Linked DNA regions of Homo sapiens. The protein of the gene in region 1 purifies or fractionates together with the protein of each later gene. This does not show direct contact. Each region holds a gene or a part of one and is shown in the gene's direction. Other genes may lie near its edges. The genes, in order: ARRDC5, ATP11C, ERLIN2, BTBD10, CACNA2D1, KCTD20 and DSG2.

Evidence for each region.
Region 2: the proteins of ARRDC5 (region 1) and ATP11C purify together in Homo sapiens (affinity purification with mass spectrometry; one large-scale study listed by BioGRID and IntAct). This does not show direct contact.
Region 3: the proteins of ARRDC5 (region 1) and ERLIN2 purify together in Homo sapiens (affinity purification with mass spectrometry; one large-scale study listed by BioGRID and IntAct). This does not show direct contact.
Region 4: the proteins of ARRDC5 (region 1) and BTBD10 purify together in Homo sapiens (affinity purification with mass spectrometry; one large-scale study listed by BioGRID and IntAct). This does not show direct contact.
Region 5: the proteins of ARRDC5 (region 1) and CACNA2D1 purify together in Homo sapiens (affinity purification with mass spectrometry; one large-scale study listed by BioGRID and IntAct). This does not show direct contact.
Region 6: the proteins of ARRDC5 (region 1) and KCTD20 purify together in Homo sapiens (affinity purification with mass spectrometry; one large-scale study listed by BioGRID and IntAct). This does not show direct contact.
Region 7: the proteins of ARRDC5 (region 1) and DSG2 purify together in Homo sapiens (affinity purification with mass spectrometry; one large-scale study listed by BioGRID and IntAct). This does not show direct contact.

What each region holds. Positions count from the first base shown.
Region 1 is NC_000019.10:4,900,097-4,904,100, reverse strand, and holds the start of ARRDC5 (arrestin domain-containing protein 5), read left to right. Parts: upstream 1-1,204; 5' UTR 1,205-1,275; coding exon 1,276-1,528; intron 1,529-4,004. UniProt on the Homo sapiens protein: Plays an essential role in spermatogenesis. May be involved in the anchoring of the sperm head to the tail during spermatogenesis by affecting SEC22A-mediated SUN5 and NDC1 transport and localization.
Region 2 is NC_000023.11:139,797,054-139,800,553, reverse strand, and holds part of ATP11C (phospholipid-transporting ATPase IG), read left to right. Parts: intron 1-443; coding exon 444-494; intron 495-1,810; coding exon 1,811-1,875; intron 1,876-2,199; coding exon 2,200-2,281; intron 2,282-3,227; coding exon 3,228-3,378; intron 3,379-3,500. UniProt on the Homo sapiens protein: Catalytic component of a P4-ATPase flippase complex which catalyzes the hydrolysis of ATP coupled to the transport of aminophospholipids, phosphatidylserines (PS) and phosphatidylethanolamines (PE), from the outer to the inner leaflet of the plasma membrane.
Region 3 is NC_000008.11:37,743,134-37,746,633, forward strand, and holds part of ERLIN2 (erlin-2), read left to right. Parts: intron 1-1,221; coding exon 1,222-1,283; intron 1,284-1,437; coding exon 1,438-1,563; intron 1,564-2,435; coding exon of another isoform or gene 2,436-2,470; exon of another isoform or gene 2,471-3,417; intron 3,418-3,420; exon of another isoform or gene 3,421-3,500. UniProt on the Homo sapiens protein: Component of the ERLIN1/ERLIN2 complex which mediates the endoplasmic reticulum-associated degradation (ERAD) of inositol 1,4,5-trisphosphate receptors (IP3Rs) such as ITPR1.
Region 4 is NC_000011.10:13,453,223-13,456,722, reverse strand, and holds part of BTBD10 (BTB/POZ domain-containing protein 10), read left to right. Parts: intron 1-3,500. UniProt on the Homo sapiens protein: Plays a major role as an activator of AKT family members by inhibiting PPP2CA-mediated dephosphorylation, thereby keeping AKTs activated. Plays a role in preventing motor neuronal death and accelerating the growth of pancreatic beta cells.
Region 5 is NC_000007.14:81,945,944-81,948,360, reverse strand, and holds the end of CACNA2D1 (voltage-dependent calcium channel subunit alpha-2/delta-1 isoform 1 preproprotein), read left to right. Parts: 3' UTR 1-1,917; downstream 1,918-2,417. UniProt on the Homo sapiens protein: The alpha-2/delta subunit of voltage-dependent calcium channels regulates calcium current density and activation/inactivation kinetics of the calcium channel. Plays an important role in excitation-contraction coupling.
Region 6 is NC_000006.12:36,449,500-36,452,999, forward strand, and holds part of KCTD20 (BTB/POZ domain-containing protein KCTD20), read left to right. Parts: intron 1-2,015; exon of another isoform or gene 2,016-2,133; intron 2,134-3,500. UniProt on the Homo sapiens protein: Promotes the phosphorylation of AKT family members.
Region 7 is NC_000018.10:31,546,343-31,549,508, forward strand, and holds the end of DSG2 (desmoglein-2 preproprotein), read left to right. Parts: coding exon 1-401; 3' UTR 402-2,666; downstream 2,667-3,166.

The sequences.
Region 1 (4,004 bases):
GGAGGCTGAGGCAGGAGAATCGCTTGAACCCAGGGGGCAGAGGTTGCAGTGAGCCGAGATCACGCCACTGCACTCCAGCCTGGGCAACAGAGTGAGATTCCACCTCAAAAAAAAAGAGAAATGTCAATCATGCAGGGAGTTGCTGCTTCCTGATGGTGTCGATGTTCAGATTAAGCACACACTGCCCTGATCAACTTCAGTGCGCACCAGATTTCAGGTCCTGGCCATATCTCTATGTTTTTTCCAATATAGACCAATATAAATGTAGAGTCTTTAAGATGAAAATGAGTGTGTATGCACCTGGGCACAGTGGCTCACAACTGTAATCCCAGCACTTTGGGAGGCCAAGGCAGGCGAATCATGTGAGGCCACAAGTTCGAGACCAGCCTGGCCAACATGGTGAAACCCCGTCTCTACTAAAAATACAAAAATTAGCTAGTTGCAGTGGCACTTGCCTGTAATCTCAGGTACTTGGGGGGCTGAGGTGGGAGAATCGCTGGAACCCAGGAGGCAGAGGTTGCAGTGAGCCGAGATCACACCATTGCACTCCAGTCTGGCTGACAGAGTGAGACCATCACAAAAAATAAAAATAAAATAAATAAAAATACCAAAAAAAAATTAGCAAAGCATGGTGATGGTGCATGCCTGTAATTCCAGCTACTCAGGAGGCTGAAGCAGGAGAATTGCTTGAACCCGGGAGGCAGATGTGGCAGTGAGCCGAGATCGCGCCACTACACTCCAGCCTGGGTGACAGAATGAGACTTTGTCTCAAAAAAAGAAAAAGCCCAGGTGCAGTGGCTCACGCCTGCAATCCCAGCACTTTGGGAGGCTGAGGTGGGTGGATCACGAGGTCAGGAGATCGAGACCATCCTGGCCAACACAGTGAAACTCTGTCTCTACCAAAAAATTAGCTGGGCATGCTGGCATGCACCCGTGGTCCCAGCTACTCAGGAGGCTGAGGCAGGAGAATTGCTTGAACCCATGAGGCGGAGGTTGCAGTGAGCCAAGATGGCACCCCTGCACTCCAGCCTGGGCTACAGGGTAAGACTCCATCTCAAAAAAAAAAAAAAAGAACCAGTGAGGACTACAGGTTTCCCAATCAACCACCCACCCTAAACAACAGTTTTGCCTCCCCTCCTGGCCACTGGGGTCCCCACTTCCCGGAACTCTGAGCTGAGTGATGTCATAGATGGATTACCTCACTAGGGCCAACGAACCGGGAATTTCAGGGACATGGGGGACAGAGAGGAATGTCTCTCTACCCCCCAACCCCCCATGTCTGTGGTGAAGTCGATCGAATTAGTGCTGCCCGAGGATAGAATCTACCTGGCTGGCTCCAGCATAAAAGGGCAGGTGATCTTAACCCTGAACAGCACCCTGGTGGACCCCATAGTGAAGGTGGAGCTCGTGGGAAGGGGTTACGTCGAATGGAGTGAAGAAGCCGGGGCATCCTGTGATTATAGCAGAAATGTTATTTGCAACAACAAGGCAGACTACGTGCATAAGACAAAGACATTCCCAGTGGAGGGTAAGGACGAGGCCAACAGCCACCCCTAGCCATGACAGGAACCTGGGTCTGGAAAATAAACACATCCGAGAGTCAATCAACAAAACTCTAGGGCTATCAGAAATAGGGAGTGGCCTGATTTCTCCCTAGGAGGGAGGCCATGAAGAACAATGACCATCAGATACACAAAACGCAAAAATAACAAGACATAAGGAGCTGATCGGAACCCCGATATTCAAAATGAAGGTTCAAAGTAGTCTCCTTGGAAAATGCTCAATCCAACAACTGCCTTTGAGAGGCCTCTGAGAAGTCTTATTCTTTTACAGATAAGTTTCACTCTGACAGCAAAACCCCAGGAGACAAAGTAGGCAGTCCTGCATTCATGGGGAGAGACAGTGGAGGTGGGCCAGGCACAGTGGTTCATACCTGTAATTCCAGCACTTTGAGAGGCCGAGGCAGGTGGATCACTTGAGGTCAGGAGTTTGAGACCAGCCTGGCCAATATAGCGAAACCCCATCTCTACCAAAAAATACCAAAAAATTAGCTGGGCGTGCTGGCACGTGCCTGTAATCTCAGCTACTTGGGAGGCTGAAGCAAGAGAATCACTTGAACTCGTGAAGGGGAGGTTCCAGTAAGCTGAGATCGCACCACAGCACGCCAGCCTGGGTGACGGAGCGAGATTCCCTCTCAAAAAAAGAAAGATAGTGGAGGTAGAAGAGCAAGGGAGACCTTCCAGAGAAGGAATAACTAGTCCCCAGTTCCACCAGGTCAGATCTGAAATCTGAACAAATGTCAGAGAGTCTGCTGAGTTGTCGGGGAAATTATATGTCCATTGCAAAATGTGTTTGTGGGGATATTCCCAGGTATTAAGCAGTCAAGCAGAACACGTGGCCAACACTTGGCTGAACAAAGTGTAATTTAATTTAATTTATTTCTGTATTTATTTATTTGTATCTTATTTATTTATTTATCTATTTTTTGAGACACAGTCTCGCCCTGCTTCCCAGGCTGGAGTGAAGTGGCACCATCTCGGCTCGCTGCAAGCTCCGCCTCCCGGGTTCAAACGATTCTCCTGCCTCAGCCTCCTGAGTGGCTGGGATTACAGGCACCCGCCACCATGCCCAGCAATTTTTGGTATTTTTAGTAGAGGCAGGGTTTCACCACGTTGGCCAGGCTGGTCTCGAACTCCTGACCTCGTGATTCGCCCACCTCGGCCTCCCAAAGTACTGGGATTACAGGCATGAGCCACCAGGCCTGGCTTATGTATTTATTTTTGAGACAGGGCCTCGCTCTGTTGCCCAGGCTAGAGGCCAGTGGTGTGATCAAAACTCACTGCAGCCCCAGCCTCTCTGGCATAAGCGATCCTCTCACCTCAGCCTCCTGAGTAGCTGAGACCACAGGCACATGGCACCATGCTTGGCTAATTTTTGTTTATTTTTTGTTTTCGTTTTTTTGAGACGGAGTTTTGCTCTTGCTGCCCAGGCTGGAGTGCAATGGCGCAATCTCGGCTCACCGCAACCTCCTGGGTTCAAACGACTGTCTCTTAAAAAAAGAACTAGCAATTTTTTTTTTTTTTGAGACTGAATCTCACTCGTTGCCCAGGCTGGAGTGCAGTGGCGTAATCTTGGCTCACTGCAACCTCCACCTCCTGGGTTCAACCGATTGTCCCGCCTCAGCCTCCCGAGTAGCTGGCACTACAGGCGTGTGCCACCACTCCCAGCTAATTTTGTATTTTTAGTAGAGACGGAGTTTCTCCATGTTGGTCAGGCTGGTCTTGAACTCCCGACCTCAGGTGATCCGCCCACCTTGGCCTCCCAAAGTGCTGGGATTACAGGCATGAGCCACCACACCTGGCCATTTTAGACTTTAAAAATTTAGATGAGATGGTCTGTTCCACCAGAGGAGTACTCTGCAAAGAGGGAACAACCAAGCACAGAACTGAGTGATAGGAGGGACTCCAGCCATGCAAATATCCTGGGGACAAATGTCAACTTACCAGACACTAATACTGAGCAATTATGTGACCTCTCTGGCTCTCAGTTAACCAATCTATAAAATGGGAGTAGGAAGAGGTCCTATTTCATAAGATTGTGTTAAGGACTTAATGATTTAATGGCACATAAAGCGCTTAGAATAATGCCAGGTATACAGTAAATGCTTAAAAATTGCTATTTCTGGCCAGGCACAGTGGCTCACACGTGTTATCCCAGCACTTTGGGAGGCCAAGGTGGGCAGATCACCAGAGGACAAGAGTTCAAGACCAGCCTGGCCAACATGGTGAAACCCCGTCTCTACTAAAAATACAAAAAATACAGCTGCTCAAGAAGCTGAGGCAGAAGAATGGCGTGAACCCGGGAGGCGGAGCTTGCGGTGAGCCGAGATCACGCCACTGCACTCCAGCCTGGGCAACAAAGCGAGACTCCGTCTCAAAAAAAAAAAAAAAAAAAAAAGAAAGAAACAGAAAAAAAAGACTGCTGGCCGGGCGCGGTGGCTCATG
Region 2 (3,500 bases), on another chromosome or scaffold:
TGGTTTAATTAGCGCTCCAGTGATTCTGATGCACACTCAAGTGTAAGAACTACTGAACTAGCGGTTTTGAAAATTGTATTTTAGCACCAGAAACCTTTCTTCACATGATCCAAGATAGAAGTTACGTTATTTATATAAACTTATAAAAGAGAGAGGTGTTGTGTGCATGCATGATGTTAAACAGAACTTGAAAATCAATTGAGAACCTTTGTTTCTGCTCCTATAATCCCATCATGTTATTTAAAAATTATATGAAAATGTTATACACCTTATCAATTCAACATAACTTTTTTTCCCCCAGAAATATAATAGGCTTTTGTAGTTCATTCACAGTTTTATCTATCTCTGTTTTATTATTTGTATTTTCATTCATTCTCATATTTCTGGTACATGGATTTCACCTGGATGTAGAAAACACATTTGCAATTTTGTTCTTTTTACAGATTTGTTGGGCGAATCAATATCTACAGTAATAGTCTTGAGGCTGTTGCCAGGTAAGTTTGCTGTTTCTTTAATTTGTCCTTTGGTTGGGGGGGGGGGTCTATTTTTCTGTTAAATCAACTAAAATAGCCAAATACCTTTCTATTATAGAAAGGAATATAGGCCGGGTGCGGTAGCTCACGCCTGTAATCCCAGCACTTTGGGAGGCTGAGGTGGGTGGATCACCTGAGGTCAGGAGTTTGAAGCCAGCCTGGCCAACGGGGTGAAACCCAATCTCTATTAAAAATACAAATTTAGCTGGGCGTGGTGGCACACATCTGTAATCCCAACTACTCAGGAGGCTGAGGCAGGAGAATCTCTTGAACCCGGGAGGCGAAGGTCGCAGTGAGCCAAGATTGAGCCATTGCACTGTACCCTGGGCAACAAGAGCAAGACTCCATCTCAAAAAAAAAAAAAAAAAAAAAAAAAGGAATATAAAGGTGAATAAGCAACTAACCTTGTGATTGGTAGAGTTGTGGTGATAGGGTCTCTGTGTTGTGGGGAGGGGGCTGTTAGAAGTAATGCTTATGGTTTCCAAAATAGCAGAGCTCCAGACATTTTGGATTATATTCCCAAACCTGTTCTAGCCATGTTATTTATTATCCTCGGTTGTGAAGTGGCTGACAACATTGGAATTATAACTGGAGAACAGTGGGAGAGTAATTGAGAAAGTAAGCAGTGGGTAAAATGCTGGAAGAACTACCTGGACTTACGTAAAATGAAAGGCTTCATTAAAACGAATTGTTTTATGTATACGAATTGTATGTATCAGCCTTCATACAATTTATCAAGCAGTTCATACAAAAAGGGATGCTTTCTTTCCTCTTCTATCATCATATTAATTACCGCAACTTTTCCACTTGGCCTTTACAGCCACACTCAAAAAGTTAAAGAAATACAGGGTCCCCAGTGATCCCCCAAAAGGAGGGTTTATTCTCTCCAAATATGTCAGTATATTTTTCCCACCTTGACGTTTGCATTCCCTGTCTTTTATTGATGGCTGTCTGCTTTTGTGTCTTGCGATCTGCTGCTCTGTTCTGTTCTCGTCTTGCTATCCATGATTCATAATCCTTTTATCCCCCCCCATGTATTTTTTTTGCCTATGTGTGTTGCTGGCTACTCCCGTACTGTGCTTCCATCTGTGCTGTACCCTCAAGTAACTTCAGAGTGAAGGACCTTTCAGCTTGTCCTGGGGAGTAAGCATATGGTATAAGTAGACAGATAACATTCTGAACCCCTTGGAGATAGGTGTGTGTCAGGGCAAAATCTGTCCCCAGAGTTGTTGATGCTATTGGCTTGTTTGGATAAGCTGTGTTCATTTTTTATTTAGGTCTTTGGGACCTGAAAATCTCTTGCTGAAAGGAGCTACGCTAAAAAATACCGAGAAGATATATGGTGAACAATTTTTAAGATACACCTATCAAAAAATATGCTTTGTAAAGGCTGTGAATAAATAGTGCATATTAAAAAGTAAACATGGCAGGTTTGCCATTTAATTTAAACCTACATTTAGGTGTTGGGAATTTATAACGTGGTAAACTAAGACGAAATATGACAAATACTATATATAATTAAAATTATCCTATAAATGATATACAACTGGTGAGTGGAAGAGGGCCTAGATTTCCCACTTTTATAGACTTAAAAATTCATAGAGCCAGCTGGGTGAGGAGTTGGTTGACAAGTTCTTAGTTTTTATTATATTCTGTAATTTCTTAGGAGTTGCTGTTTACACTGGAATGGAAACCAAAATGGCTTTGAACTACCAAGGGAAATCTCAGAAACGTTCTGCTGTTGAAAAGTTAGTATGCGCCACAATTTATTTAGTCATTATTGATTAAAATAGTTACTTTCTTGGTAATTCCAAGTAACAAGCATAACAAAAAACAACATCAATTATAATAGCAACTACAATTTTAAGCACTTGTTTATGTACCAGAAACTGTGCTCAATGATTTGTATGTCTGATTTGGTTTAGTCCTCTGAAGAACACTGTGAAGTAATTCATGTTAACCTCTCCACTTTACAGATGAGGAAATGGTCTTGGAGATGGTATGTGACTTACCTAAGCTCACATAGCTATTAAAGGGCAGAGTTTACTTGAACTGTAAATTCATTCCTTTTTGCTAGTGGAGTTAATGGTTTGGAGTCCTTTAGTTGCTATATGCAAGTTGGTTCTATAATATAGATAATAGTCTCCTGGCACCTATTGAAGCAGTGCCTCGTAGATCCTCAAGCCAGTTGCCACTGCTATAGACCTCACCCTGTATTTGGCATGGATAACCAGTATATCACTGGCACCCTTTCCATAGCTCCACTTTTAAACTGAAAGAACCTACACCGAGCTTGAGGATTTCACATTGCTACCGTGCCCTCTACCCCAAACATTTAGGATTCAGGGAAATGGAGACAAGATACTCTTTCTATAAGGGTTGAGTAAGTAATGGTGTGTGTATGTGTGCATGTGTGTACCTCTCCTGTCACTTTACAGGAACCTTAATAAGGTGTGTTCAGCTAGTCAGCCATTGCACTTGGGGGAGCATTGGTGGTCAATAAACAGTTCATGGCCAGCTTTTCCATTTTGCCACTTGAAAGTAATGCTGCAGCTATGATAACTGAGGTTAATACACAAAGGCTTGTGCTGTAGTTACGCGTCGTACACAGAAAAAGCTTTAGATGACTCAGTAGTTTAATTCATATCTGACTGATGTCTTTGGTTTTAAAATCCATGCTATCTTATTTTTCAGATCTATTAATGCTTTCCTGATTGTATATTTATTTATCTTACTGACCAAAGCTGCAGTATGCACTACTCTAAAGTATGTTTGGCAAAGTACCCCATACAATGATGAACCTTGGTATAACCAAAAGACTCAGAAAGAGCGAGAGACCTTGAAGGTAATTTGTTTTCTGCTGAAAATTGAAACTATTTTTTGTGACTGAGCCAACCTTCACTGAAATGCTGCTCAGGGAAACGGCACCTTTTGTTAGCTTCTGAATTTTCTCTCGATTACATGGTG
Region 3 (3,500 bases), on another chromosome or scaffold:
GGATGCTGGATTGGACAGAGACTTACAAGAAACATAAACAGAAGCAAGGGTGAGCATTGATTAGAACCTGGTTCAAAATTAACAGCTATAACAGATACGACAGAAACTATATGAGTCCACTCAGGCTGCCATGACAGAGGACTACACACCAAGGGACTAAAATAATAGATATTTTCTCACCATTCTGAAGGCCCAAAGTCCAAGATCCGGGTAACAGCAGGGGTAGTTTTGGTGAGACCTCTCTTTCTGGCTTGCAGGTGACCACCTTTTTGTCACATCCTCACAAGGCCTTTCCTCTGTATGTGCAAGAAGAGAGAAAAAGGTCTTTGGTGGATACCAGACCTTTTGGATTACAGCCCACCCTTATGACCTGTTTAACCTTAATTACCTTCTTAAAGGTCTAATCTCCAAATACAGTCACATTGGGGGTTAGGGCTTCAACATATGAATCTGGGGGCGAGGCATACACAGGTCAGTCCATAACACAAACTGTTGGGGAAATCTGAATAAGGACTGGGTATTAGGTGATATTACAGAATTATTGCTAATTTTCTTAGGCTTGGGAATGATACCATGAGTGTGTAGGAGAATGATTATTCTTAAGACAGTGCTCACCAAAGTAAAGGAGTAAAGTATCCTAACTGCAGCTTACTTTGAAATGTTCAGAAAAAAAAAAGGTCAATAAATAAGGTAAAATGTTATCAGTGTTGAATTCAGGTATCTGGATATGGATGTTAGTTATACTACTCTTTCGGCTTCTCTATGTTTGAAATCTTTTTATAATAAATATTTGAGGGCAAAGGGAGTGTGACACCAAAGTAATAGTGAAGACAGTTTAAGAAACATTGATCATAACATTCCACAGTAACCTTCTAAGTTCTGAAAACTTCACCTTGACCCTCCTTAGTCTTTTCCGTGCAACTGATTAATCAAAAGGCATTGCTGATTCCAAAGATATGAGTTACTCTTTCGTACTGGTCCCCAAAAGTCTCATTCATGTCTTTGTAGAGATGTTCCTAGGCAGTGTGATTTCTCAGGAGAGTATGTTGTTGCCATGAGCCCTGCAGAACCTCCCACTTGGAGATCCAAGCTGCCTTCCAACTTCCCGTGAACTCTTCTACTCCTTTTCTGCCAAGCCCCACATCTTACGCCATCACCCTGGGGGACTGCACCATATTCTAAGGCTTCCCAGTGACTTCTTGTCCATTCTCCCTCCAATAGTGGTGGTGTGATGATCTACTTTGACAGAATTGAAGTGGTGAACTTCCTGGTCCCGAACGCAGGTACGTCTTAACAGTTTATTCCCACCACCAGCTCACTTTCCCCAGCATGCCACTCCCGTGTCTGTTGTAGCACCTTGGAAAAGGAGAGCTGCCGTGTCTGAGGGCATTTTGAGTCTTGCCTTTTCTTATGCCAAGCCCTCTCCTTCCCTCTCAGTGTATGATATAGTGAAGAACTATACTGCTGACTATGACAAGGCCCTCATCTTCAACAAGATCCACCACGAACTGAACCAGTTCTGCAGTGTGCACACGCTTCAAGAGGTCTACATTGAGCTGTTTGGTAAGAAAGTCTCTCCTGAGCATGCCGTGCTTAAGCAGGGTTCCTGGAACCCCGCGTCTCTCCACTGCCTAAAGCCTGGCTGCCTGCAGGGTGTGATGGTCACTTATGGACAGGAAATGTTAAAGAATCTTGTGCTCAGGAGCTGGTCACAAAGGAGTTCATGGAGAATGCTGATAGCTATGCAACAAGATCCTTAGAGGGCTGGAGCTTTGGGCACAGGGACCATAGTGGAGTAGAGTATTCACTTCTGGCCTCAATCAGAGGCTGGAGTGGAAATGTGTTCCCACTGTTCCTAAACTATCATTCTATAATGAAGACAAGGTCCATTCTAGAAGAACCTTAGAGATTGTCCAGACCAGCATCCTCATTTTAAGCTGAGGGTACTGTGACCCAAAGCAAGAAAGTCACAGAGCCAGATGCCAATTAGTAGTGGGGCTGAAACAGGAGCCTTCCTCTCCTGGCTCTTCAGCATTCTTCTCACCATGCAACACTGAATGGAGGGCCCCCAGGAATGGGTGATGAAAAAGACATGATTCATAGTTAATTCTAGAAGTGAGATGAGAACCATAGCTCCTTCCAGTTCTCAGAACCTTTGTGATTATTATTTTTTTACTCTGTACCTGTAGCAACGAATAGAAAAACACTTTAAACAAAAAGATTCCACGTGCCTAAGTAGATATGTTTTGTCCTTTTTACCTTTTTCAAAGTAAAGGCAACCTGACTTAGCAGCAAAGGAAGGACACAGTTGGGTAACTGTTATAACTTGTTTGCAGTCAAGTATTCTGTTTAAACTCACTGCCAGAAATTCTCTAATAGCCAATGCCAAAAGTAAATGAATTTTTAACCAATAGTATAACTGTTCTTGACACTAGGACTGGAAAATGATTTTTCCCAGGAATCTTCATAAAAGGGACCCTGAGCAAGAACATTTTTCATAGCAGACAGGAGGACTCATCCACATCGCCAGCAATCATAATTAAGCAAACCGCCTTTTGCACCATTTAAGATTTAGGAAATCATCCAAATTACTTTTAATGTTTCTGCAGTAGAAAATGAATCTAAATTCATTTTATAGGGTTTGTAGTCTTTTATCTGTTTTGGATTCACTGTGCTTTTAAGAAAAAGTTGGTAAATTTGCCGTTGATTTTTCTTTTTAACCTCAAACTAATAGAATTTTATAAAATATTAATTTTCTCTAGCCATTGTCTTAGGACTTGTGACATTACATGAACATTTCAAAGCACTGAAAAAAGACAAAGGATCCCTAATGTCCCTGAAGAGGAAATTAAAATACAAAGTTGTTTTTCATTAGCAAACTTCTTACTTTCTTACAGCTAAACTTGGTAGCTTAGTGAAGTACAGCTGCTTGTATGGAGGAGCTGGGGAAATATATTTGCTTTGAAACTTTTTTATTTTTACATCTCAGTCTTGCTAGCAAGCACTACTTGGCTTAGAATCTGTCATATCCATAAAGGAGGAGCTCATGTCTCTAGTCCTGGCCCTTCAACTCAGAAGGTTCTTCTATACTTTCCTTCTCTCAGGACTCTTATAGCCCAGACTTTAAACATGAAGCTGCATAATTTTCATCACTTCTTACTCTGCCGCATCCTCTTTGCCCATGTTATTAAAGTATTATCTAATACTTTGAAGTTTACCTGAAGAACCTCTTTGTGTGTACTTAGTAATACAACTTTTTTTCCTGTCCCAACACCTTTTAATACAGTTGAATGGATAAAAACATGGATACAAACACATGGATATAGTTATCACTGAAGCAGTGTGACATAAAATAATACCTATGTATACAACACTCCTCTGTAAATAGCAAATGTAAAGTAAAAGATACACAACAGATCATTTTGTTTATCTCACTATCATTTATTAATCTATAATGTATCCCTCCTATGTATCCATGCAAGGAAGCAATACTAGCTGCC
Region 4 (3,500 bases), on another chromosome or scaffold:
ATTTTTCTGAGGATTGCCCATTTCTTTGTGCATTGTCTGTTTTGGAGAAGAGAAATTGTCTTTTTCTTTCCTTCTTTAAGGAACTCTTTATATACTATGAAATTAGCCCTTTTAAAAAAATTACTTGTTTTTAAAACTTTATTTTTTTCTGTGCTTTTTGCAAGTAGTGGTGTTTTTCGTAGGCAAATAGGAAAGGCTTTCTCTCCTTCCCGGTTGTCAGTGAAATCACCCATAATTTTTCTAGTATTTGTATGATTCCAGTTTTTACATTTAGATAGTTGATTTCATTTGGAGTATATCCTTGTATGTGGTATGAGGTACGAATTCAGTTTCATGTTTTCCTGAATGTTTATTCAGTTGTCCCAATACCATTTATTAGTGTCTGTCTTTTCTCGATGACTTGAGCTATCACTTCATCATATATTGAAGTTCTTTATGTTTTAGGGCTCTGTTTCTGGGCCTTTAATTCTCTTCTATTGGTTGGTTTGTCTATTCATGCACCACAGACTTTCAATTATTGAAATGAACCTTAATTCAAAGATCTTTGAATATAACAACATTTTTAATTTTATTAAAGTGGAATGCTACCTATAGTACCAAGACACAAAGATGTGTAAAATGTTTCTTTGTGAGCAAGTGTTTTGTCTCAGGGCAAATTTTAGATTCCTTAAACTTTTCGGACAGTGCAGACGTAGAACATTTCCATTATCACACTGTTGTGATAATGGAAAGTCGCGCTGAGCAGTGAGTGCTACAGTCTAGAACTTGAATCATATTTAATAGAGCCTTTACTAGCCTGTTGAATTGATGGCTGATAGACAAAAATCGGAAAGGAATGGAAGGTAAGGGGAATAATGAATAGGTCAAAATGGAACAGCATAATAAAGGTTATATGAAAAAACATAAAGCATCATGGAAGGAAAAAATATTGTTTAAAATATTGTCTGACTTTGTTTAAAGGGTGTTGCTTCTTAGGAGTTGACCATAATCTCCTTTGATTTAGGCATCAGCTTCAGGAGCATTGCCTGTATTAATTGATATTATGTCAAGATGGTTTGCTTCAACTAAGGTGTTTCTGGTTTTGAAGTCAACACTTTTTGGTCATAGTAGAAAATTAAAACATTGTTATTTCTTTAGGATATTAAAAAAATATGCCTTTTGAGTTTTAAGAAGGTAGCCTATAAACTAAACAGTGTCTAGTTACTTAACAATGCTAATCATGTAATGTAGGTACTTTGTAAATGCTTAAAATATGGAAAGATTTTCAAACATTTATTGAGCTGTTTGTGATGGGAAAGAAACAAATGAATAACACTTCATTTATTGAAGTGTTAATGTGTTAATTAAGAAGTCAGCAAAATTTGAATAGAAATTCTATAAAAGTGATAAAATCAATTAGCACAAAGATTTTATATCCAAATCACCTCTGGAACATTAAGGGTTGACTGAGCTGACTTTGGAAGTCTTAACATCTTGGTGAATTAGAGATCACCCTTTAAGTGGACAACAGGGCTGGGCGCAGTGGCTCATGCCTATAATCCCAGCACTTTGGGAGGCCAAGGCAGGCAGATCACTTGAGGTCAGGAGTTCGAGACCAGCCTGAACAACATGGTGAAACCCTGTCTCTACTAAAAAGAATACAAAATTAGCCAGGTGTGGTGGCACACGCCTGTAATCCCAGCTACTTGGGAGGCTGAGGAAGGAGAATTGCTTGAACCCGGGAGGCAGAGGTTGCAGTGAGCTGAGATTGCATCATTGCACCCCAGCCTGGGTAACAAGAGCAAAGCTCCGTCTCTAAATACATAAATAATTAAATACAAATAAATAAATAAACAACAGATCCTACTTTTAATGGAAATACCATGCAGTTTTATTAAATCTGTTTGTTAGAGTCTCCCTAGCAGTTATCAAAATGCCTGAAAGGTGCTTAAGTACTCAATAAATAAATTTTGAATGAAAGAATAAATAAATTTTATTTTATTTTTAAAAATCTTTTTAATTTTAAAATTTTTATTTAATTTATTTTTTTATTTTTAGACCTGGGGGTCTCATTATGTTACCCAGGCTTGCCTTGAACTCTTGGGTTCAAGCAATCCTCCTGTCTCAGCCTACCAAGTAGGTGGGATTATAGGTGCATGCCACCATACCTGGCCACTTTAATTTTATATGGTGAAATTAGATACTTACAATTCAATTGGTTATAAAAATATCCTGAATAAAGTTCTCAGCTAAGCTTGTCTTGTTTTAACTGTAACAAATCAGAAAAGGTCAAGCCTTAACAATTGAAAGGGCTTCTGTGAGATTTAAATAGGCACATCTTTGAGGAATGTTTTGGGGAAACTTAGGGCTTGTTTGGTAATAGCTTGAAAAATGTTTTCAGGGATGTGATATTTTCTGTCTTTTATCCCCACTATCTTGATATGTATTTCCTGAGAGCATTAGAAATTGAATTGTTATAATTTTTGCTTATTTGAGAGTGAGAGTCACATGATTGGTGCTCTTTGCAATAACTAAAACATGAGTACAGGTATATGACAGTATTCTTTTAAGACAACTAAAAGTTAAAGACTGCTTATAAATCTTTGTAATTCTTATTTCCTCTGCACTAGTAAATTATATTAAGTGAAATGTCCTTCAGTTTCTTTCTTCTTCTTTTTTTGTTTTTGTTTTTGAGATGGAGTCTTGCTCTGTTGCCCAGGCTGGAGTGCAGTGGCGCGATCTTGGCTCACTGCAACCTCCACCTCCCAGGTTCAAGCGATTCTTCTGCCTCAGCTTCCTGAGTAGCTGGGATTACAGGTGCCCGCCAACACGCCTGGCTAATTTTTATATTTTTAGTACCAGTGGGGTTTCACCATGTTGATCAGGCTGGTCTTGAACTTCTGACCTCGTGATCCACCTGCCTCGGCCTCCCAAAGTGCTGGGATTACAGGTGTGAGCCACCGCACCCAGCCTCTTTCTTCTTAATGTAGTTAACATTTTGTAAAAGCTTACATACAAATTGTGCTAGGCTGTGGGGACACAAACCTGAATCATACTTTGTTCTTGCCCTCAAGGATCTTATAGTCTAATGGGGTACATGTGGCAGAAACATATTCTATCAATGCATATGTAGTGACTATATTTAAGCAATCCAAAAAAATTTACAAAACTACACTTAAGCAGTAAAATTAAACAAGGAAGAAAATTTCTATAGCACTATCACCTCCAAACACTTTTTAATAAACCTTCCTCAATATTATCATTTTGAAAATAATATGTAGAAAATTCAAGTAGTATGAAGGGATACAACAAAAAGTAAGTCTCCTTATTCCAGCATTTTCTCAGAGGCAACTAGTTTTAATTTTATGTGATATTTCTAGACATTTTATCTTAACATATACAAGCATGGATGAGTGTGTGTGTGTATGTGTATTTAATTTTTAAATTTTCTTTTTTCTGTTTTTTTGTTTTTGTTTTTCTTGTGTGTAAATATGGGATTACATAATGCATATCTGTGTCTT
Region 5 (2,417 bases), on another chromosome or scaffold:
TCATAACTGGTATTGACATTTTAGAAAACACCAAAGTGATTTAAAATATATGTGGGGAAAAAAACTTCTCACTCTAGTAACAATGTTTTAATCATGTTGTTTGTTAAATATTTAAAAGTTATTGTTCAATTTTTGCTAGACTATCTTAAATCATGATAGTGTTGGGAAGGGGGTATCAAAATATAAAATTGTTAGTTTGTGTATATAAACAATGCACATTAAAACAATTGAATTGCTTCCAGCATACAACAAACTACCTTAAAATTATGTTCAAAATCTATTAAATATATTTTCATGGCTAATGTCGAGTATATGTTTTCATCAATTACATTGTTATTGTATTAATCGCGGTTAAACTTGGCATCTCTTGGCAGGATCCTATTTAATTTCTGTTGCCATCAAAATATATTTATATGCATGAGTTTTGCTATAAACCTTTATTTTCTGCTATAAAGTTATATATTATGACAACCATAAATGCAATTACAAATTGGGTAAGAACAAGCTGAATAAAAGTTGTTCCCATGACTAATATTAGTCTTCATGCTTTTAGCATATTTTTTAAGACAGTAACACTCATCCCATCAAATTATTACATTACATTTAGTATTTTTCTGAGTTACATTGACAAGAACTTAAATTATAGCCTGTTATTAATATTGATTTCCAACGACTGAACAGTACAACAGATCAATAAAAAAGTTTATACACTGCTTTAACTAATTTTTGTTATACTCATGTGGCTTAGTGTAGTTAGTCACTAAAACAGAGTTCAAGTGAGCTTGGCAATGGTGTTGAGTAACAAGAAAGAATTTTGCATTAATGATTTCTTTTTATTTTCCTCATTTAAACAACCAGCATTACTGCCAAACACCAACCGTGGTCCATATTTGTAACAGGTTTTTAACATGACATAGTTAGCAAGTTTGATTGAAGAGATTTTTAGGTCCTGGGCCTATAAGATTTTAGTATGATCTTTTTTCATGTTTCTAATGCTTGAGGTGTTACTGCTTAACTTGGGAAAAAAAAAAACAAAAAACAGTGTTCCTGCCATTTGTAAGTTTTCCTATAATATTCCTTTTATTAACTTTAAAACTGGACTTATCGGGTTCAAATAGGCAGTATCCCTTTTAAGTGACCTTTGCAACCCAAGTGTTACTTGCTTATTTGATGCTCTCTTGTATTTTAAATCTCATTTAAATCTTTGTCTGTGACCAACAAAGCTTAAGATTTTGTCTTCATTTAAAACTCTGAATCTATTCCATTGATCATGTTAGACGTTCAAATGTTTAATGGTATAGTCTGACCTAGTGAAACAAAATGGATGTTGTTACTTTTTTTAAAGAATAGAATGAAATAACTATTTCACTTGCCCAAAATTTTAAATATTTTTTCATCTAAACTTGTATTGTTTCCCATAGCAGAATGTCAATATTCACAGTACATTTCTGTAAAGAGCAAACCAATATAATGTTTTGAGTGTTGAAAAAAATTCCAGATTTTTGAAGAATTAGACAACTCTTCATCTACCTTATTTCTAGTTCACACAGTTATCTCAAATTCCACTGAAACTAATGGGATACTGTCTTGTGTAGATGCCAGTTGAGTTTATAATGTGACCTAGTAAAGCTGTCTTTTTTGTTGTGTTGTATGAGTGTCGGATCATGCTTTTAGGAATACTTTTATTAAAATGGTGTGCATTCATGCAAAAGGCCAACTGGCTTTTGTGAACAATAGATCTTTTCTCCCCTTTATTTTGTTCTCTTGACACTTTTGTGAAAATTACCTAGCCTGATAAAAACATTTTGTAAAAATTTGTATAATACTGTTATAAAATATTTATAATCCCAGAAAATGTTGTGTTAAATCTTGTGCAAAAACAGTATATTCAGAATAAAAGTTTATCATTTAAAGTCACCACGCGGTTTGGGTTTTCTGCTTTTTAAAAGATCCAGTTGGAAGAGACAGATGGCTCTGTCATAAATAATTTTAAGAGAGAATTCTGGATTGTGGAAATAAAAGTTGGGATTAAATAGTGCTTTTACAATTACAAACCTCAACTCACACAAATACAGTCAATCCTTGAACAACATATGTTTGAACCACATGGATATACTTATATGTGGATTTTTTTCAACCAAATGCAGATTGAAAATACAGTATTTGCAAGATGGAAAACCCACATATACCAGGTGCCTACTTTCTGTATACTCAGATTCTGCGGGGCCACTTTCCAGACTTGACTTGGGTATGCATTGATTTTGATACACGTGGGCATCCTGAAACTGATCCCCCCCACGCACAGAGGGATGACTGTCAATTCACTCGCGATGCCTTTACTTAAGTCTAACCTTCTAACATGCCTTCTCCATCAAGGCACTTAGGAATGTACTTCATCAGACTTTGGACTTCTTTTA
Region 6 (3,500 bases), on another chromosome or scaffold:
TGATTGGTGCATTTATAATCCTTTAGCTAGACACAGAGCACTGATTGGTGCGTTTACAATCCTTTAGCTAGGCAGAAAAGTTCTCCAATTGCGTTTACAATCCTTTAGGCAGAAAAGTTCTCCAAGTCCCCACTCGACCCAGGAAGTCCAGCTGGCTTCACCTCTCATCTTCACATTGTCATCCCTCTGTTTATGTGTTCTACTCGCCCCATTTTGAGGACTCCAGACATATTGGATTAGGGCCCACCTTAATGACTTCGTTTAAAAGGCACTGTCTCCAAATACAGGCACATTCTGAGGACTAGGGGTTAGGGCTTCACATATGAATTTTGAGGGAGACACAGTTCAGCCCCGACAATCTGTTTAAGAAGTTATGTGTTGGTGGCCGGGCGCGGTGGCTCACGCCTGTAATCCCAGCACTTTGGGAGGCTGAGGCGGGCGGATCACAAGGTCAGGAGATCGAGACCATCATGGCTAACATGGTGAAACTCCGTCTGTACTAAAAATATAAAAAATTAGCTGGGCGTGGTTGCAGGCGCCTGTAGTCCCAGCTACTTGGGAGGCTGAGGCAGGAGAATGGCGTGAACCCAGGAGGCGGAGCTTGCAGTGAGCCGAGATTGCGCCACTGCACTCCAGCCTGGGCAACAGAGTGAGACTCCGTCCTAAAAAAAAAAAAAAAAAAAAAAAAAAAGAAGTTATGTATTGGGGCCGGGTGCAATGGCTCCTGCGTGTAATCCCAACACTTTGGGAGGTGGAGGCAGGTGGATCATCTGAGGTCAGGAGTTTGAGACCAGCGTGGCCAACATGACGAAACCCTGTCTCTACTAAAAATACAAAAATTAGCTGGGCACGATGGCACGTGCTTGTAATCCCAACTACTCGGGAGGCTGAGGTAGGAGAATCGCTTGAACCTGGGAGGCAGAGGTTGCAGTGAGCTGAGATTGTGCCACTGCACTCCAGCCTGGGTGACAGAGTGAGACTCTGTCTCAAAAAAAAAAAAAAGAAAGGTTATGTGTTGGGTAATCTGAATGCTCGTTTCCTTCATCACTATGTCCTACGCCATGAGGCCCAGGCAGCATTCTTTTTCACGTGACTGGCTTTACCTGTTCTTCAGAACCATGCTTACTTTTGTATACCCTGAGAAGCATATTATGCCTCTGTATAAATCATTGTGTTATGTTATATTTAAGATTATCCTGTTAGCCTACTGAATAATGTGCTTGAAAAACTATTCCATACATTAACTTAAATTCCTAATTCATCTATTAAGCTCATTTCTTCTTTAATCTAGATGGAAGAATGTCAAACTATTTTATGTGATAATATATTGTTTTCTGATTAAACTTTAAAAATTTTCTCTTAAACTGTTTCAAGCAGTTTTAAAAATTTATTTTATCTTATTTTACTTTTTAAGAGTTAGAAGTCTTGCTGTGTTGCCCAGGCTGAAGCATAGTAGCTATTCACAGTCTTGATCCCACTACTGATCAGCACAGGAGTTTTGACTTGCCTGTTTCCAGCCTGGGTCAGTTCTCCCCTCCTTAGGCATCCTGGTGGATCCCTGCTCCTGGGAGGTCACCATTGATGCTAAATTTGGTGCAGACACCTGATTGACATAGCGCACTACAGCCCAGAACTTCTGGGCTCAAGTGATCCTCCCACCTCAGCCTCCTAAGTAGCTGGGGCTACAATAGTGTGCCATGGAACCTAGTTACAAGCAGTTTTTAAGAAACCATTCCAATGATTCCAATGTTTTCTTGAGAAGGTATCTGTTTTTAGAGATACATTTTCATTTTTCCTTATTTTAAAGATAATAACACATTCATTTTAGAGACTTTAGAATATTCAGTAAGACAATAACTTTTTAAAAGAAAAGTCACGTGATTCTACAGTTAAGGGAGAATAATCTTTTCCATCTTTTTTCTGTGGATACATTTATTGTTTCAACTTGCCTTTTAAAAATCTAATATATCAATACTATTTCACACTATTTCAGTTATTTTCTTTTCTGAAATAAGGTCTTGCTCTGTCACCCAGGATGAGGTGTAGTGGCAAGATTTCAGCTCACTGCAGCTTTGACCTCCGGGCTTAAGCAGTCCTCCCACGTCAGCCTTGCCCAAGTAGTTGGGACTACAGGTATGTGCCACCACACCCAGCTAATTTTTTTATTTTTTGTAGAAACGAGGTCTCACTGTGTTGTCCAGTTTTGTCTTGAACTCCTGGGCTCAAGCGATCCTCCTGCCTTGGCCTCCCAAAGTGTTAGGATTACAGGCATAAACTGCTGCACCTGGCCCTATTTTAGTTATTTTCAAACAGATTTCTATTTATTTATTTAGAGACAGAGTCTCACTCTGTCACCCAGGCAGTGCAGTAGTGCAGTCTCAGCTCACTGCAACCTCCTCCTCCCCGGTTCAAGTGCTTTTCATGCCTCAGCCTCCTGAGTAGCTGGAATTACAGGTACACACCACCATGCCCAGCTAATTTTTGTATTTTTAGTAGAGACAGGGTTTCGCCATGTTGACCGGGCTGGTCTCAAACTCCTGACTTCAAGTGATCTGCCCACCTTGGCCTCCCAAAGTGCTGGGATTACAGGTGTGAGTCAATGTGCCTGGCCTATTTTTTTAATTGGTGAATCATATGAATTGATTTTTGAATGTTAAACCAATCTTTGCCATAATGTATTATCCTTTTTTATGTGGCTGAATTTGATTTTCTCATAATTTGTTTAGGATTTTTGTGATTATGTTCATGAGAAAGTTTGATATAATTTCTTCGTTAAAAGTGTGGGAAAATTTGCTAGTCAAGCCATTGGATTCTGGAAAAGTTTTAATTATCAATTAAATTTCTTTACTAGATATAGGACTTTGCAGATTTTCTAATTTTTCTAAGTCAGTTTCAATAAATTATAGAATATTCATTTAATCTGCAAATTCTAATTTACTGGCATAAATTGTACAAAATAACTGCTCATCTTTTTAGTCTCATGGGATGTGTACTGATAGTCTTTTTTCATCTGTGATCATTGTAGTGTGCATCTTCATTTTCTTTTTTTTTTTTTTTTTTTTAGATGAAGTCTCACTCTGTTGCCCAAGCTGCAGTGCAATGTCGCTATCTTGGCTTACTGCAACCTCCGCTTCCCGAAGCGATTCTACTGCCCCAGCCTCCTGAGTAGCTGGGACTACAGGTGTACACCATGACACCTGGCTAATTTTTGTATTTTTAGTAGAGATGGGGTTTCACTATGTTGGCCAGGCTGGTCTTGAACTCCTGACCTCGTGATCCGCCCGCGTCAGTCTCCCGAAGTGCTGGGATTACAGGCGTGAGCCACCGCGCCCAGCCTTATTTTCTTTTTAAAACAACTTCACTGAGAGAGAATTCACATAACATACAATTCACTCATATAAAGTATAGAGTTGAGTGGTTTAGTATATTCAAAGTTGTGCAGACATTACCACCATTATTTCTTTCTTGATCAGTTTTTAGGGCTTATCAGTTTTCTTAGC
Region 7 (3,166 bases), on another chromosome or scaffold:
TGGTCACTGAAAGAGTAATACAGCCTCATGGGGGTGGATCGAATCCTCTGGAAGGCACTCAGCATCTTCAAGATGTACCTTACGTCATGGTGAGGGAAAGAGAGAGCTTCCTTGCCCCCAGCTCAGGTGTGCAGCCTACTCTGGCCATGCCTAATATAGCAGTAGGACAGAATGTGACAGTGACAGAAAGAGTTCTAGCACCTGCTTCCACTCTGCAATCCAGTTACCAGATTCCCACTGAAAATTCTATGACGGCTAGGAACACCACGGTGTCTGGAGCTGGAGTCCCTGGCCCTCTGCCAGATTTTGGTTTAGAGGAATCTGGTCATTCTAATTCTACCATAACCACATCTTCCACCAGAGTTACCAAGCATAGCACTGTACAGCATTCTTACTCCTAAACAGCAGTCAGCCACAAACTGACCCAGAGTTTAATTAGCAGTGACTAATTTCATGTTTCCAATGTACCTGATTTTTCATGAGCCTTACAGACACACAGAGACACATACACATTGATCTTAAAATTTTTCTCAGTCACTGATATGCAAAGGACCACACTGTCTCTGCTTCCAGGAGTATTTTAGAAATGTTCCACAATTTACTGAAGACATAGAGATGATGCTGCTGCTTAGGTGCCTTTTAGCAAGCTATGCAAACAATCCTGATAAAACAAGATACATAGAGAGTCAATCTGGCTTCTGAGAATTTACCAAGTGAACAGAGTACCTAGTTCATCAGCCGTCCAGTAAAGCAACCCAGGAAACTGACTGGGTCTCTTTGCCTACCGTATTAACATTAAACATTGATGTTCTGTATTCTGTACTTTACTGCACCCAGCAGACTTTCAACAACTCATTGATCCAAAGATACATGCACAGTCTGAGCACCAGCTATGGTGCTCATAACTTCTTTAAGACTTGAACCCTTTCAATCTGTGTGATTCATTAAATTGGACCATTGATGATAAGAATACACATTGTATGTTTCTGTGCACATGACAGTGTGTGTGTGTGCACGTACATACTGTATAGTCTTAAAAATAGCATTATACTGGCCAGGGGTGGTGGCTAACGCCTGTAATCCCAGCACTTTGGGAGGCCGAGGCGGGTGGATCAACTGTGGTCAGGAGTTTGAGATCAGCCAGGCCAACCTGGTGAAACCCCGTCTCTACTAAAAATACAAAAATTAGCTGGGCGTGATGGTGGGCGCCTGTAATCCCAGCTACTTGGGAGGCTGAGGCAGGAGAATCACTTGAACCCGGGAGGCGGAGGTTGCAGTGAGCCGAGATCGCACCATTGCACTCCAGTCTGGGCAACAGAGTGAGATTCCGTCTCAAAAAAAAAAAGAAAAGGAAAAAAAAATAGCATTATACCTCTTCCTTGTCTCAACCGCCATGAAAATTCTGAACACTCCAAATTCAGTTGAATAATCCAAAACAAAATTTATAAGTATAAAATAATTTTACTTCTTATAGTAATAGTATACTTTAAAAAGCCTCAGGGTATATTATCTTCTAAACAGCTACAATTCAGTGCAGCTACATTAACCAACTATGTTCTCTAGTTGAGAACAACTAGGCCTATTTCACTGCTGTGTAGCCTCAGTGCCTAACATGGGTGCCAAATAAATATTCGTAGAATTACACTGAATTGTAAAAACCATTCGTTTTTGTTTACAATTGCCAAAAATCTCAAAAGGCCCTGTATTTATGTAATTCTTTGAAATTATTATTTTATTTTGATTTCTCAGTTATTGACTGGCTGGGTGTGACTTAGTACATAAGTACTCAATATTATAAAAACCTCAAATAATTGACTTGATTTTACACAACATCCTTCCCTTTTCTACAAGTTAATTTTTTTACAAATCATTTGGGTTATCTCCTAAATAGGTTATATTTTATTGCTTCTAGAAACAATGTTTCAAAATATATGTGCATTATCAGTAATAATTTGTATAAATATTTCCCACAACAATTTTCATAATTTTCAAAGACTAATTTCTTGACTGAAGATATTTTGCTAGGGAAGTGAAACTTTAAAATTTTGTAGATTTTAAAAAATATTGTTGAATGGTGTCATGCAAAGGATTTATATAGTGTGCTCCCACTAACTGTACAGATCAGGACACATATTTTTAGACATCTAAGTCTGTAGCTTAAATGGAGGTTACTCTTCCATCATCTAGAATTGTTTACTTAGTAATTGTTGTTTCTTTTATTATTATAGACTTACTATCAGTTTTATTTTGCCAAGTATGCAACAGGTATATCACTAGTATATGAAAATGTAAATATCACTTGTGTACTCAAACAAAAGTTGGTCTTAAGCTTCCACCTTGAGCAGCCTTGGAAACCTAACCTGCCTCTTTTAGCATAATCACATTTTCTAAATGATTTTCTTTGTTCCTGAAAAAGTGATTTGTATTAGTTTTACATTTGTTTTTTGGAAGATTATATTTGTATATGTATCATCATAAAATATTTAAATAAAAAGTATCTTTAGAGTGACCCTTTCCCCATAGATTTTTATTTCTCTATTATATTTTACAAGGAATATAACTCAGTTTGTTAGGGAGAGTGCCTTAAAGGCAGGTGTTTCTTGGACTTTGTTATTTAATTAGATCTGCTTGCAATAAAAAAAGTTGTCGGTTATCTAAAATTCAAATTTATCGGGGTACTTGGCATTTTCATTGTCCAACTCTGGCAACCTTGTTCCTAAGGAAGTGAAGGTTGCTCTCTGCCCAGAGTAACACTGGAGAAATCTGTTGGGTCTGGCAGAAGAAGGCTAGTATATCTAACCCAAAGAGATGAAATCATTCTACCAATGTTTGAGAGGCTGTTTTAATTGCTTGTTATAGTTTAGAAGGGAAAAGATCAGAGTTGCTGCTATAAGAGAAGAAAAACAAATTTTCTTCTAGGTCCCCAGCTGGGGCTCTGTAACAAAACACAGATTAACAAGAGAAAAACAAACATTAGTCTGTTAACATGTGTATCTCATGCATGCTTTGGAGTAACTGGAATGAGCAGCTCAAAGGGGTGGTTAGAACTTGGGTGTAAAATGTTAAAAGAAGAGCTTTAAACAAATTAAATCTAACAGTTTACTTAAGCAAAGAAAGGTTCACAAAATTGGGCTGCCCTGGAACTAGAAAAGGTTCGGAGAACTCT